Linked DNA regions of Homo sapiens: region 2 is linked to region 1. Evidence: fine-mapped expression QTL. Tissue or cell type: whole blood. Region 1 holds a variant in brackets; the other region holds the start of a gene. All regions are shown on one strand. Distances are from middle to middle.

What was found. PIP is the estimated chance that this variant, and not a neighbour inherited with it, causes the effect.
Region 2: HBM starts here. The variant in region 1 is fine-mapped to the expression of HBM in whole blood (INTERVAL, PIP 0.98).

The regions. Positions count from the first base shown.
Region 1 is chr16:115,094-123,093 of GRCh38, reverse strand. NPRL3 (NPR3 like, GATOR1 complex subunit) reads left to right here. Exons shown (of 14, transcript NM_001077350.3): 4 at 3,839-3,968; 5 at 5,719-5,793. Among named protein-coding and RNA genes, the nearest start is that of NPRL3, 20 kb to the left of the region's middle. RefSeq lists an enhancer at 7,035-8,000. The variant C/G (reference allele first, on the strand shown) is at 3,017.
Region 2 is chr16:161,895-169,894 of GRCh38, reverse strand. It overlaps HBM (hemoglobin subunit mu), which reads right to left and starts at 3,917. Exons shown (of 3, transcript NM_001003938.4): 1 at 3,806-3,917; 2 at 3,423-3,627; 3 at 3,131-3,315. The coding sequence starts at 3,897. The coding sequence ends at 3,187. LOC107983982 (a long non-coding RNA gene) reads right to left here. Exons shown (of 3, transcript XR_001752047.1): 2 at 7,338-7,402; 3 at 6,974-7,259. It also overlaps the pseudogene HBZP1 and the pseudogene HBAP1. RefSeq lists an enhancer at 5,610-6,110.

The DNA.
Region 1 (8,000 bases):
GGGTTTTGTGGGGGCCTCTCCCAAGGGTTGGGCATTAAGTGTGATGCTCAGGCCTAGATGCTATTGAGTGTGCTTAATAGAGGCAGAAATGTTCTCATGGAATTGATATGGTGCTTGTCCAGGAGGGCACGGATGACGGGCGACTCTTCCATTCCCCTTGACAGTGCATCTCCTCTGGGCCTTGGAGGTACACACAGTGTCTGTGAGCTTCCAGCAAGGAGGTGGGTGGGGCGAGCAGAGTTGAGCTCCCCTCCAGGATGTCTTTCCATCCCTTTAGGTGGGTGGGGGGAGCAGAACTGAGCTCCCTTCCAGGATGTCTTTCCATCCCTTTTTTTGTCCAAGCTAGAGAGCAAACCCTACTCCAGAATAGCTCGGCAGTGATAGAAGGTCCTGGCCTGTTTTCTGGCTGGGCTGGTTCATCTTCCTAAATGTGTTTTTCTTGAATTTCCAAGTTATTCCAGGAATCTTCAGTTTTTGTAACAGATGTTTTATTGTGCTGCAGTACATTTATTAGGCCTTTCACCATCAAAATGAGGGAAAAGGATTTTCATAAATGTTGGAAGCCAATAAAACAAAACAACACTTGTTTATGGTTCAGTTTGCTGTTTATAAGTTTTGCCCCACCCCCAATCTCATGAATATAACTCTGTCTTTATGTGTATTACATTACCAGACAGACTATATAAAGTATAAAGCCAGATGGGTGCAGTGGCTCATGCCTGTCATCCCAGCACTTTGGGAGGCCGAGGTGGGCAGATCATGAGGTCAGGAGGTCGAGACCAGCCTGGCCAACGTGGTGAAACCTTGTCTCTACTAAAAAATATGAAAAATTAGCCGGGCTTGGTGGCACGCGCCTGTAATCCCAGATATTTGGGAGGCTGAGGCAGTAGAATCGCTTGAACCCAAGAGGCGGAGGTTTCAGTGAGCCGAGATTGCGCCATTACACTCCAGCCTGGGCGACAGAGCAAGACTCCATCTCAAGGGGGAAAAGAAAAAGCCGCTCAATTGTTTTGTCATGGGGCCGGGCGTGGTGGCTCACGCCTGTCATCCCAGCACTTTGGGAGGCCGAGGCGGGCGGATCACCTGAGGTCAGGAGTTCGAGACCAGCCTGACCAACATGGTGAAACCCCGTCTCTACTAAAAATACAAAAATTAGCTGGGCGTGGTGGCGGGTGCCTCTAATCGCAGCTACTCGGGAGGCTGAGGCAGGAGAATTGCTTGAACTCGGGAGGCGGAGGTTGCAGTGAGCCGAGATTACGTCATTGCACTCCAGCCTGGGGGACAAGAGCAAGACTTCGTCTCAAAAAGAAAAAAAAGCGTTTTGTCATTATATGTTTGTAATATTAAGGTGTGGGGAGTAGATTTCTCTGTGGGCCAGATTTGCTCAGATAAACAATGGCTAACTACCACCCTGCTGGCTGCCTCAGAGGGCTCCATGAACAGCCACTAAGTCAATGTGACTGTTTTTTTTTTTGAGACGGAGTTTCGCTCTGTCACCCAGGCTGGAGTGCAGTGGCACGATCTCCGCTCACTGCAACCTCTGCCGCCCAGGTTCAAGCGATTCTCCTGCCTCAGCCTCCCGACTAGCTGGGACTACAGGCTTCACTGCGCCCGGCTAATTTTTGTATTTTTAGTAGAGACGGGGGTTTCATTATGTTGGCCATGCTGGTCTCGAACTCCTGACCTCGGGTGATCCACCCACTTCAGCCTCCCAAAGTGCTGGGATGACAGGTGTGAGCCACCACGCCTGGCCCAGTGTGCCTTTTTACTTCAGCTCACAGATTTCCAGTTGGCCGTCTCTGCAGACCCTGGCCTCTAGCAGGGAAAGAGCCTTTTATTTGGCTGTTGTGAGGGCGCCTTGAAGTTTAGGTATTTATAAACGCGAACTGGGCTACCACTGCTTGCCTCTGAGAATCCCAGGGACCATCTCACAGCCAAACTAAATTTGGTCCCTGGACTGGTGCCTGAGGGCTGAGGCTGAGACATGGCTGTGACTCTTTATGACAGAGCAGCAGTTTTTAGTGGAGATTTTGGGCTGTCAGAGCAAGGGACCTTTCTGGAGTGGTGGTGGTTATTTTTCTGTTACCTCTGTGTCCCCTGAGTCACTGGGTGGCAGAGTGGAGGGGCACTGTTTAGATAGGATGTGAGGCGTTGGCCCTGGGTCAGTTGCTAGAGCAGAAGTGTTTGGTGGCGTTTTAATACCTCAAACCCTCCTTCAACATTACCATGTCCCACAGATGGGAGTTATAGAACAGAGTGAGCCATTTAGGGTTTTTGAAGAAAGCATATTATGCCTGTGGTGTAAGGCACTTGAATCCTCCATCTCTGCAGGAGAGACCTGCAGTGGGCTGCTGAGGACTTGGCTGTGGGTCCTGCGTTTCCCAGGATAACTCTAACAAGATTGATTTCAGAAGGTCCAACTGCAACCTGACTGGGTTGAGAGGCTATTTCCAAATGGCACAAATAGGTTTGACCAAACCCTCGTATGTGGTTTGTTTGTGAGCCTAGGGTGACTTCGGATGGTTAGAGGGTCGTGCCAGTTCAGGAGGAAGGCTGGAAAACAGTCTGAGCCCCACAGCCCATGATAGACTTGGAAAGAATCATGTAGCTACTTGCCATTTGCTATTACAGAGCTGAGCTACAGTGCAGTTCAAAGCAGGCCTTCCTTTTTCATCACAACATGGAGGAGTTATGTCAGTCTCTCCCATCCCTTCACCAAGAGGGCCTCTGGGGAAGAAGCATGACCAGGTTTGCACCCTAGAATGTCTGTCCTCAGTGGTCTCTTCTAGGACCTTAGGGGTCTCCCTGCCCAGGGGCAGAGTATGGCCCTGCGGAGGCTAGAGCTTCCCCAAGAGAGTGCACCCTCCTGACCTAGATATTAGATATATTTTTCCTGGGTGGAGAGATATGTATGGGACTTCTCTCTCTTCTGGGTCCAGATCAGAGGTAGTACATTTGTGTTTCTAGAGCGGAGGCCCTCAGAGCCCTGGACTCTGAGATAAGAGTCAGCACCACC[C/G]ACAGCACCCCTGCAGGTGACACTCCCTTATCCAGATCTCCCCAGGCAGGAGGCATCAGCATTGCCAGTAAGGAGACAGAAGGGCACAGATGACCTTGAAAAGGGGAAAAGGGATGCCCTCCCTCCCACACCACAGCTGCACCCACTTCTCCGTGGCACCCAGTTGTGTGCAACCTGGTATTTCTGCCATTTGGAAATAGCTGTGATCACAGTGGGCTTGCACATCTTGCACAAAGCTTCTTCCCTGATAAAAACCGGAAAGTTTAAGTGTTTGGGATAAGGGAACGGATGGGCAGCCATGCTATGAGGAAGGAAGTCAGCGCTCTGCACGCATCCCTGTGCACTGTCCCCTTGCCCTCCACGCGGCTCTTTGGGTGAAGGGCCGCTCTGTGGGTGAAGGGCCTGGGTCCTGGGAGTTGAAGGTGCAGCACAGCAAACCTGAGTGTAACTGGGAGAGGCCCCTCTGCCTGTGAACTTTAAAGAGCAGCTCCGCAGGGCAGTGCCGGCTCCAGCTGATCCTCCCTTTGAAAGCAAACTGCAACTGTTTCTCTCCTGAATTTAATAGAGCATGCCAAAAAATGACAGCATGTGCCTTCAGTCTGTGCTTCTCATGCCTTTTACCTTGTAATTCTGGTGATCTTACATCCATAACCTCTGGGATTGCTACAGAAGGGCAACTGTTAGTAGCTTCCACCAGCAGTCGGGGCAGAGCAACTCCATGAAGGTGCAGTTTACTGAGACCCTTCCGCTCTGGGGCCAGCAGGGCATGGTGCTGTGGTATTTTGTTAACTTATTTTTATTCTACCTCTCTTAAATTTTAAGGTTTTCAGATGTTATTCTGGCAACAATTTTGGCAACCAAGTCTGAAATGTGTGGCCAAAAATTTGAACTGAAGATTGATAATGTGCGATTTGTTGGGCACCCAACACTGCTACAGCATGCTCTGGGGCAGGTATGGCTCTCCCTGGGCAGGTGGGGCTCTCCCTGGGCAGATGTGGCTCTCCTTGGGCAGGTGTGGCTCTCCTTGGGCAGGTGTGGCTCTCCTTGGGCAGGTGTGGCTTCCCCTGGGCAGGTGTGGCTCTCCTTGGGCAGGTGGGGCTCCCCCTGGGTAGATTTGGCTTCCCCTGGGCAGATGTGGCTTCCCCTGGGCAGGTACAGACCCTCTGGGAAGGTGTGGCTCCCCCTGGGCAGGTGTGGCTTCCCCTGGGCAGATGCGTCTGTCCTTGGGCAGGTGGGGTTCTCCCTGGGCATGCACAGACCCTCTGGGCAGATGTGGCTCTCCCTGGGCCGGCAGGCCTGGTCCATTCTGGCTCTGGGGGGCTCAGAACTGAGGCTGACACCAGCTCTGGTGAAGGTACTGGGCAGGAGACCTGATTAGACACTTGGTATGAACTGTGCATCTTCATAAACCCAGAGAGTCCAGTAGAAAAAGAGACAGGTGTTCTTGCCCCTGAAGACAGGTGCTTCAGTCCCTGTCCCTAGCTTTTACAGTCTGCATTCTAGGTCTCTACTGACTGTGGCCCTCCCCTTCATATGTAGGATGTCTGTTTCCAGGGGAGGCCAAGATAGTGAGTTAACTAGCATCGTGAAACCCTTGAATTTTCTACAGTGTGGTGCAAGCATTTCCTCTTATTTATTACAAGACACTCTAGTAGCTAATATTAGTATTATTTAGCACTTATTTTTCTGCTAAACCCTCTCTATATGTTCTCTTGATGAATAGGTGTCATAGCACTGAGGAACTCATCTTGTTAGCAGGATGAAGGGAACTTGTACACCAGAGCCTGCCAGTCAGCTCTCTGCATACAGGCAGGATCAGTGATGGCATTACTAAGATTCTGAAGGGTCGAACACAGTAACGTAGGATTTAGCTACATTTATACAGATCCAGCAATTCTGGGAGGTTCTGTGGTGTTATTCGTGAACCTCCATGGAAGGAGTTTCTGAGGCGGTTGATGAGCCTGGTCCCCTGTACCGCACCCTCCCTTCTCATCACAGCCTCCACAGCTGGGGCACAGTCCCCTACCTGTAGGCAATGAAGGGGAGAGTTGGCAGCCTGCCCGCGGTCACACCCTGTAGACAGGAGTGGCAGTCAGGGGTAGGGGATGGGTGCCAGGGCAGCCTGGGGCCCCAACTCCCCCTGGTGGCAGAACTTGTAGTTGGCTTTGAAGAGTTCCCCCGTGCCCCTTGGAATGCTTCCCTTGAGCGCCCTGGTCCTTGTGAAGCTGGCTGGATGCCAGAACCGGGAGCACAGAAATTAGGACTTGCTGGCCTGCCTCACCTGGGCCCTGCTCAGGGCTTGGCTGTCCCTGAACATCGTCCTGTCCCTCAATTGTTCTGAGTATGCGTCATACTTAGCAGATACAGCCTGGTGGATGCAGGCGGGCACGGGAAGGCAGTGGGGGTGTGGGTCTGGGTCCTCCACCCATTTATGCCCCTCTCCATCTCGTCCCCTGTGGGCATTGTCAGCTCACTTCTGTTAGCGGGGGGGCGAGGGGGTCAGAGCACTGACCTTCCCACTCTTGTCATAGTTGTGACTTTGCCCATGCAGTAGGCACGCCTCCAGAGCAAAGGCATTCATTGCTTTTCCAAGACCTTGGTGCTGTATTCTGGGGACTTTTGCCATGCCTGAAGTAGAATAGCTCTAAACAGCTTTCCTTAGAAAGTCGTCTCAATTAATTAGAATTATGCATCTTTTACAGATCTCCAAAACAGATCCTTCCCCGAAGAGGGAAGCACCTACTATGATTCTTTTTAATGTGGTGTTTGCACTGAGGGTGAGTGTTTATATAAATGGTTAAGATCAGGGAGTGGGGCCAGTGGAGAAGCAGCTCTTTTTTTCCAACGAGCGTGTCATTGACTCGGAGCTTGGACTGCAGCGGGCTGGCCCCTCCTGGGGTGCAGGCAGACTGCACTTCATTGTTTACCCCTTTTTGTTTTGGTAAAATACACATAACACTATTTGTCATTTTGAAGTCTATGCTTCAGTGGCATCTGGTACATTCATGTTGTATAACCATCACCACTATCTAGATCCAGAACACTTTCACCACCCCAGAAGGAAACCCCATACCCATTAGCAGTTATTCTCTTTTTTTTTTTTGAGACAGAATCTCGCTGTGTCACCCAGGCTGGAGTGTAGTAGCGCAATCTTGGCTCAATGCAACCCCTGCCTCCCAAGCTCAAGTGAGTCTCCTGCCTCAGCCTCCCGAGTAGCTGGGATTACAGGTGTGCGCCACCACGCCCAGCTAATTTTTGTATTTTTAGTAGAGATCGGTGGGGGGGGGGGGTCTCGCCATGTTGGCCATGCTGGTCTTGAACTCGTGACCTTAGGTGATCCACCCACCTTGGCCTCCCAGACTGCTGGGATTACAGGCGTGAGCCACTGTGCCCTGCCCCTGCTAATTTTTGTATTTTTTGTAGAGATGAGTTTTCACCTTATTGCCCTGGCTGATCTTGAACTCCTGGTCTCAAATGGTCTTCCCTCCTTGGCCACCCAAAGTGCTGGGATTCCAGGTGTGAGCCACTATGCCCAGCTGGAGCTTAATTTTTAAGACAGGCCTGCCTTGTTGATAAATAAGGAACTACAAATTAAAACAAAATGATTTGTTAATGGCTCCTGGGGTACAGGGTTCTGGGAGAAGTTCTTCACTTTCTGCTTGATACACTTTTGTAGTATTTGCATTTTCATAGCATCTTTGTATTTCTTACATAATTACATAATATAAAGCGCCACAAAGAAAAATGAATTAAGTAAAAAAACAAGCAAAGGAGTAAACAAAATCCATGACGAATGTTGTCCACCTGTCAACACCGATAACCCCTGTGGGACAGTTGATGAAACGCAGCCACAGCCCCACCCAGGATGCTGTAGGCAGGCCCTCACCTCGGGGAACAGTGTTTGCAGGATGCTGTAAGCAGGCCCTCACCTCGGGGAATAGTGTTTCCAGGATGCTGTAGGCAGGCCCTCACCTCGGGGAGTAGTGTTTGACAGCATAGCATATGATGCCCTTAGATCTAGCAGTCCCACTGTTAGGAGTATTATCAAGAAAAACAAGCAACTTTTACAACTGCGTAAAGATTTCCCCCAGGCTTGTTCTCAGCAAGAATAAAGATTTTTATAACAATAATTAAACTGGAGATAATCATAGTGTGTAGTAGTTGGGGAGTGATTAAACAATGTGGTGATTATTATACACTGGCCCATCCTCTTGCCATCAAGGGTGAGAAATGGAGATCAGACCAGAACCTGGAGAAGTATAGATTGATTACGGACAGGTAAAAGCAACCGGAGCCGAGCACAAATGCTTACGCCTGTAATACCAGCACTTTGGGAGGCTGAAGCGGGCGGATCACCTGAGATCAGGAGTTTGAGAGCAGGCTGACCAGCATGGAGATACCCCGTCTCTACTAAAAAATACAAAATTAGCCAGGTGTGGTGGTGGACACCTGTAATTCCAGCTACTCAGGAGGCTGAGGCAGTAGAATCGGTTGAATCCGGGAGGCGGAGGTTGCAGTGAGCAGAGATCGCACCATTGCACTCCAATCTGGGCAACAAGAGCGAAACTCCAGCTCAAAAAAAAAAAAGCAACAGGAAACAAGATAGTCTAGGACTTCAGCTGGCCGTGATATTGACGAGTAGGAGAAATTTTGATAATGTAAAGAGTTTGTATTTTTTGGGTGGACAAGTCTTTCTTTTTAAAATATATACTTTTGTCATTTTAAATATATATTCTTTCTTTTTAAAATATACACTTTTGTCATTTTAAATATATATTCTTTCTTTTTAAAATATACACTTTTGTCCAGGCACAGTGGCTCACTCCTGTATTCCTAGCACTTCGGGAGGCCAAGGTGGGTGGATCACTTGAGCCCAGGAGTTTGACACCAGCCTGGGCAACATAGCGAAACCCCATCTCTACAAAAAATACAAAAATTAGCCAGGCATGATGATGTGCGCCTGTAGTCCCAGCTACCTGGGAGG
Region 2 (8,000 bases), 47 kb before region 1:
ACCCTCACTCCAGCCACCTACCCTCTGGCAGGAAGGGGTGAGAATGAGAGAAATGTTCTGGCACCTGCACTTGCATTGGGGACAGCCTATTTTGCTAGTTTGTTTTGTTTCGTTTTGTTTTGATGGAGAGCGTATGTTAACTGGGTTCAACCAGGGAGATTTCAAAGGAGGGTGGCGATGCTGGGACTCCCTGAGTAGAACCCTGGATGCCTCTCTCCTCCCCAGCTTCTGAGCCACTGCCTGCAGGCCTGGCACCTCTCAGGACAGGGGATGGTTCAGCACCTTCTCTTGAGCAGGCCCACCTCAGCTTCCCCTCCCATACTCCCTGCAGTTCTCCCTCCCCAGCCCCATGCAGCTGCAGAGAGGTCCTTGGTCTGAGACAGGTAAACACCTCCACTGTTGGCACATTCCGGGACAGAGAGAACCCAGGCACACACAGGCTGCTGCCTACTCGGACTTCATTCAAAGATCAGGAAGTGCTGGGGCAGGGAGGGGAGGAGGGCCTGGTGGGAGGCCCAGCAGGCAGGGGGCATGACCACCAATGCTCTAGCTTAATGGTGTTTTTAGGTCAACACAGCACTCACAAAAGCAAATAATTTGTCCATGGAGGCACCACATGGGTAAACTGGGAAGGGTGTGGCAGGCCTAGGTCACCAGCAGGCATTTACCCAGGAACTGTGGAGAGAGAGTCAGGGGATGCAGATACTACTGCCACCTGTGCTCCACCTCCCTGAACGCGTGGGAGGGTCTGTCCTATGAGGAAGGCCAGCTGCCCCCACACCCTAGATTCCTCCCAGCCCAAAGCTCTCCCTGATGTTGCCTGGGTCCACCCACAGCTCGTGGACATGCAGCTTCCTCAGCTCAGACACATCATTGGGCATGTCATCTAAGTGGACCACGGCATTGGTCAGCGTGTCGGCCACCTACTTGCATTGTTTCTTGATCTGGGCTGAGCCATAACTCAGGGCCAAGTGAGAGGAAGGTCAGGAACATGCTTCAGGGGGAAGCAAAGAGTGAGGGGCTGGGGGCTGGGTCCAGGGTAAGAATAGTTAGGGGTGGCCAGTGGAGCCCTGGAGTGGGCGTTGGACCCAAGGTGTGAGCAGGGAGAGGAGGGTTCTTGCCTCTCCAGGGCCTCCGTGGCATAGCCAGCAGTGTGGTTGCCAACTTTCTCCCAGACCGCCTTGGTGTTAGCCTTGTCCTCAGGAGACAGCACCACGGCAGCTTATTTCTGAGTCTGTGTAAGCTCAAAAGTGAAAGGTGGGGGAGAGTAGGAGCTCTTATGCCTGGGATGCAGGGTCATTGGCTGGCAAGTTGCCAGGAGGTGCCTGGCACAGGAAAGGGGAGGAGGAGTGAGTGAGAGTAGACAGGTTGCCCAAGGCTGCCCTGCGTCTCTTAGTCCTGCCCAAACAGAGACCAGCTCTCCACATGGTAGCCTTCCCGCTGGCATTGTCCTGAGCTTCCACACAGGGTCCTGAGCAGCTTATACCCATAAGGTATCCACATATGGCCCAGACCCAGGCAGCTTCCTGGATGGGGAGAAGAGCACAGTTTTTCCAAAGTGAAACATAAGCTGCTTTCACACCAAACTCTGCCTGGGACAAAAAGCTGTTAATTATCCATGTAAACAGTTGCGGGGGCTGGGTGTGGTGGCTCACGCCTGTCATCCCAGCACTTTGGGAGACCGAGGAGGGCAGATCACTTGAGGTCAGGAGTTTGAGACCAGCCTGATCAACATGGTGAAACTGTGTCTCTATTAAAAATACAAAAATTAGCCAGGAATGGCGGCCCATGCCTGTAATCCCAGCTACACGGGAGACAGAGGCAGGAGAATCGCTTGAACCCAGGAGGTTGAGGCTGCAGTGAGCCAAAACTGTGCCACTGCACTCCAGCCGGGGTGTCAGAGCAAGGGCCTATCTCAAAAACAAAAACAAAGCAAAAAAAAAAAAAACCCCCAAAAACAAAAAAACAGTTGGGGGATGTAGATAACGTGGGGCCAAGTTCTCCAAACTACCGGGCTGGGGTCCCAGGCAGTGCAGGGCAACAGGTCACTGGCACTGACTGCTGGGGGGAGTTTGGCCGACTCACAGTCAGGGCTCCACTTCCAGCAGCTCTCTTCAGACCTCGTTGCTGACTGCCAGGTCAGACCTGGGTGCCAGGCCTGGTCCAGTGCTCCCCACACAGACCCAGGATGGCCAACCCAGAGCCAACCCTATTCAGGGTTTGGAGACCTCCAAGGTCCCACTCTTTCCTCAGCCCCTATTCTTTGTCTGAAAAGCCTGGGGTGGAGCCCTAAGATTCCCTTCCCAGTCCTGGGGAGGGAGAAGAGGGAACCTGGGGAAGGGAGTGCCTTGGCCTGGGCACCTGCAGAGATTGAGACACGGCAGCTGGGGCTGGGTGGAGGGGTGGGGTGGCAACGACCCTGCAGGCACCCACCCTGTGTTATGATTTCAAAAATTATTTCAAAAATCTCGTGAGTTGGACGTTGTTTTTCTATTCGATAGGTAAAGGCCTGAGAGCTCTGGGACACGCCCAGGGTCGCACAGCTTGTCATTGAGCAGGCTGGAAGACTAAACCTGCTCTGTCTGCCAAATTGTGGCCACTGAGGACTTCCTCCCGACCTCATCCCCAGGGCTGCAGGGTCACAGGGAGGGCTAACCAGGCTAGCGCAGGTTTGCCACTGAGGAAGTGTCCATGGGGGAAGGAAGGGGAAAGGAACAGGTCTGCGGAGCCCTCTGCTCTGGGCCAACGAATTAGGTTGCACATTTGGCTCTGGGACCTCAGTTTCTGCATCTCTCTGCAAAAAGGGCCAGGATTAGCATCTACAGGTCCCAGCAGGAAGTGGGGATGGAGGGAGAATGAATGAATAAATGCGTGAATGGGGAAGTGCTTTGCGAACAGTATGGTTGGAAGCCCGATTCAAGGGTTGAAGTCGAAGGCCACCCTCCCTACCCCCGCCACATCACAGTGCTCCCTCTGCCCCATCGCACTCCTCGCCATGGGAGGACAAACCTCCGGGGGTGGGGCGCATTTGAGAGTTCTAGGAGGCTCCTTTTAGGTCCCTGAGCTTCACTGGCCAACAATAGTGACCTCGCTTTGCTAGCTCCCCAAAGACCACACAGGCAGGGGCAGATGGTTCGGGCCTCTGTTTATTGACAGGCACAGACCAAGGCCTGCGCAGCACAGGGCTCAGCGGTATTTTTCGGTCAGCACCACGGCCACACCAGTCAGGAACTTGTCCCACGCCGCTTGCATTTGCACGGTGAACTCGTCCTGCAGGTGGGAGGCCAGCACGACGTGGAAACACTGGATTAGCAGCTGCAGGAGAAGGGGCCGGTGAGACGGGGTCTGCCCCGCTAGGGACCCCCAGAGCCCCCCCACCCCGGCTGCGCGCTGCACCATTGCCCCGGCCGGAAAGGCCTCACCGGAAAGTTGGCTGGGTCCACGCGCAGCACGAGCGCGTGCAGGTCCGCCAGCGGGCTCAGCGCGGCGCGCAGGTTGTCCACGTGCTGCACCGCCGCGCCCACAGCCGCCAGCATGCGCTGCCCGTGGCTCAGCAGCTGCGTCGCGTCCTGGCAGGCGCTCAGGTGCGGGAAGTAGACCTTGGTGCTGGGGTACACCGTGAAGAGCCTGCAGGACCAGGTCAGTGACCGGGGAGGAGGGCGGCTGCGTGGGGCTTCACTAGCGCCCACACCGCCCAGAGCCCGGGGATCCGCACCCGAAGGACCTTGGATGGCGTTGGCGGCCCACGCGCCCAAAACCCTCATCTCCACCTCCCTGAGCTCCCGGAGACCCCGCCTCTACCGACCTGAGCAGCAGCTCCGCCCCGAATTGCGCCTCGTGGCCCGCAATCAGGTCCCAGACCTGCGCGATTTGGGCGCGCTCCTGGGCGCTGAGCATGGCGCCGCCTGACGTGCTCTGGGGGCCGCGCCCGCCGCCCTGGCCTCCTTATAGAGCCTCCGGGCACCCCGCCCGTCCTTATCGGCCCGAGCGCGGCGGGAACGCGGGGACCCTCGGCCTGCGCCGGGGAACGTAACCAGCCCGGGTTCCCGTCTGTGTGGAGGCCTCGACCTCCGGGATCCCAGGGTTTCTGGCATTGACCCACGCCGTTGCGCGTGGGCACCTTTACTGCAGACTTTAGGGGCATCTGTTTACTCCCCTCGGGTAAAGTTACTGCTCTGCCAGGAGGGAGCACATGGGAGGAACCGGAGAGAGAACACCGGGCAGGAAACCCCCTACTCTCTTAGGAGTCGGGGAGGGACCGGCCTCAGGGACCCCCGTAGCTGCCAGAGTCCCGGGATTCGGACGTCAGGCTTTGTGGAAAAGTTCCCTGAGCCCCGACACGCTTCCAATACGCTTAGTGAAGTGACAATCTTTGTGCGATATGGGAAGCCGGGAGACGCACAAACGCCCGTCCGACTCAAGGACCCCAGGAGACGCCGCGGGCCGGCCCGGGACTGCTCCGCTCCACCCGGGCCGCAGCTCCGGTGCTCAGGGGCTAGAACCTCCCCAAGGCGCCCCCCAAGTGAACCCCAGGCCGCGACGACAGTGGGGACGACCGAGTTCCTGCGAAGCCCCCGGACCCATCACTCAGCTTCTCCCCTCCTTCCCTCCAATACTGAGAACACAGAGCCCAGATCGCTCCGTCCTCATCCATTTATTGGAGTCAGGGCAGGAACTGTGGGAGGGTGAAGGGCAGGGGAGGGGCCGCAGCCTGTCCTGGGGGTCCCGGAGGCGGCGCTCAGCGGTACTTCTCGGTCAGGACAGAGGATACGACCGATAGGAACTTGGCCCAGGCGGCGTGGGCCTCGGCCGTGAAGTCGGCGGGGAAGCGCGCGGCCAGGGTGACCAGCAGGCAGTGGGACAGGAGCTGGGGGCGGGGGCGGCTCAGTGCGGGGGCGGGGCCTAGCCCGGGCCCCGCCCCGCGACCCCACCCCGCCCCGCCCCGCCCCGCGCCCCGCCCCGCGACCCCGCCCCGCGACCCCGCCCCGGCCCGGCCCGCCCCGCCCCGCGCCCCGCCCCGCCCAGCCCCTCCCCGCCCCGCCCCGCCCCGCCGGGCCCCGGCCGCCCCGCCCGCCCCGCCCCGCCCCGCCCCGCCCCGCGACCCCGCCCCGCCCCGCGACCCCACCCCGCCCCGCCCCGCGACCCCGCCCCGCGGCCCCGCCCGCCCCGCGGCCCCGCCCCGCCCCGCCCGCACCGCGCCCCGCGCACCTTGAAGTTGACCGGGTCCACGCGCAGGATGTAGGCGTGCAGCTCGCTCAGCTTGGACAGGGCGCCGCCGATGTCGTCGATGCTCTTCACCGCGTCGCCCACGGCGGCCACCACCTTGGAGCCGTGCGCGCGCAACTGCGCGGACCCCGGGTGCAGGTCGAAGTGCGGGAAGTAGGTCTTGGTCTGCGGGTGGCTGAGGAAGAGCCTGGGACGGGGGGCGGGGGCCGTGAGCTCCCAGCAGCGCGGCCTCCCGCCACGGCCCACGCGCCCTGCGGCCCTCTCCGAGCACCGGGACACATCTGCGACCCCGCAGCAGGCCCCAGCCCCTCCTCGCGGGGCCCGGGTGCCCAGGCAGCTGCCCCTCCCAGGCTGCCCTGGGCTAGAGGCCCCCCAGGCCTCTGCAGCTCCCGGCTGATCGCCCTGCTTCCGACGGGTTCTGTGCAGCCTGGTCCCCAAATCTCCCGCCCTCCGCCTCCAGCACGCCTGGTGCCCCCAGCCCCTCCACCGTCTCCTCTGGCCACAGGACCTCCCTCCCAGCCCCAGACTGGGTTGCCCGCCACCCCTTCTGCAGGCTCATGACCTCCCAGCAGCGTTCCAGGGAAGGAAAAGCTCCCTGGCCCCTCCCAGGGGATCAGATGCTGGGAATTTGAAGCTGGGACAGTGCCCTGATCCCAGATGCTGGGACTTTAGAGGCTGTAGTGCCCTGGCTGCCCTGTAAGGCCCTTCAGGCCTAGAACGAAACCTTTCACCCTCTGCTTGTCAGAACCTGGGCCTGTGCCTGCCCAGGTCTCAGCGAGCCCAGATGGTTGTGCAACTCCTAATCGTTCCCTCCTTACCCTGCCCTCCTCACTGAGAGGGAAGGCTATCTGTCTCCACTGTCCCCTCCCCACAGTCCCCTCCTCACTGTCCCTTCCTCACTCTCCCCTCCCCACTGTGCCCTCCCCATGGTCCCCTCCTCACTGTCCTCTCCCCACAGTCCCCTCCTCACTGTCCCCTCTCCATTGTCCCCTCCTCACTGTCCCCTCCCCATGGTCCCCTCCTCACTGTCCCCTCCCCAAGGTCCCCTCCTCACTGTCTCCTTCCCACGGTCCCCTCCTCACTGTCCCCTCCCCACGGTCCCCTCCTCACTGTCCCCTCCCCACGGTCCCCTCCTCACTGTCCCCTCCCTACGGTCCCCTCCTCACTGTCTCCTCCCCACGGTCCCCTCCTCACTGTCCCCTCCCCACGGTCCCCTCCTCACTGTCCCCTCCCCACTGTCCCCTCCCTATGGTCCCCTCCTCACTGTCCCCACTCCACGGTCCCCTTCCCATGGTCCCCTCCTCACTGTCCCCTCTCCACTGTCCTCTCCCCACTGTCTCCTACTCACTGTCCCCTCCCCACGGTCCCCTCCCCACTGCCCGCTCCCCACTGTCCCCACTCACATACCTGGCCTCCCACCCAGTCCCTCTGGCAGTCCCATCTGACACTCACCTCTCCAGAGTCTCGGTGCCGATGGTGTCGGCCTGCGTGGAGATCTTGGCCCACATGGACACAATGATGGTCCCCTAAGTCTTGGTCAGAGACATGGCGGCAGGGTGGGCGGCTGCACTGGAGTTGGGCCTGCTCAGGACTGGCCTTGGTAGTGCTCAGCCCCCAGGGTCCCCTTATATACAGGGAGCTGGGCCCAGCCAGGCTGTGGCCATTGGTCAGGTGAGGGGAGGGGGCTGCAGGGGTGGTGTTTCTTATCAGATCCAGTGACAAAGGGGCCCTCAGGTGGGACTGGGGGCTGAGGAACCTATCGCTTCTGTCTCCCCTTCTGCCCACCCCTGAGTCACAGCTGGAGCCCCAGCTTCAGGGAGATTGGGGCCCCAATCTGGGCATGAGAGTCCACGTGGTCAGCCCAGCCCGGACTGGCCTCAGGAGTGACTGTCCTTGACCTCCCTGTCCCTGTGATGACAGGGTGACCTAGAGCACATGGGCCCTGGCAGAGGGACGATCCATTCCTCACTTCACTGAAACTTCTCTGGCCCACCTTATGAGCTCCAGTTTGCAAATGAGGAAACCGAGACCCCCTAGAGAGAAAGTGGGACCCAGTGTCACAGGGTGGGAAGGGACAGACCTCTCCCACCTCCGGTGTGCAGCCCCCTCACCTGAATGAGGCTCGGTCTGGGGTTCTCCTCCAGTAGCCTTGTAGGGGACACTCTGAGCCGGGCACCTAGGCAGGAAAGCGTCTTGGGAGGCCGGACTCCTCACAGAAGGTGAGGTCATGCAGGCCTGCAATTCTGCTCACTATGTTCTCATCGCAGCCTGGAGGAGACCCTCCTCCAGCTCTACTGATTTATTTCTTTTTATCCTCTCTGTTTATTAACTCCCCCCTCCTCCGTTAGACAACCATTTCTATGTGCTGAATATATTCCTTTTAGTTAGTACGTGTGCTTGCAAAGGGTATGATTTTATGCATGTATTTTAAATTTATACGAATTATAGGTAGATATAAAAATTTTGTTTGTTAGTTTGTTTCTGAGATGGAGTCTTGCTCTGTCTCCCAGACTGGAGTGTGGTGGCATGATTTTGACCCACTGCAACCTCTGCCTCCTGGGTTCAAGTGATTCTCCTGCTTCAGTCTCCTGAGTAGCTGGGATTACAGGCACACACCACCACGGCCTGGCTAATTTTTGTATTTTTAGTACAGATGGAATTTCACCATGTTGGCCAGGCTGGTGTCGAACTCTTGACCTCAGGTGATCTGCCTGCCTCGGCCTCTGAAAGAGCTGGGATTATGAGCGTGAACCACCGTGCCCGGCCCATGCACA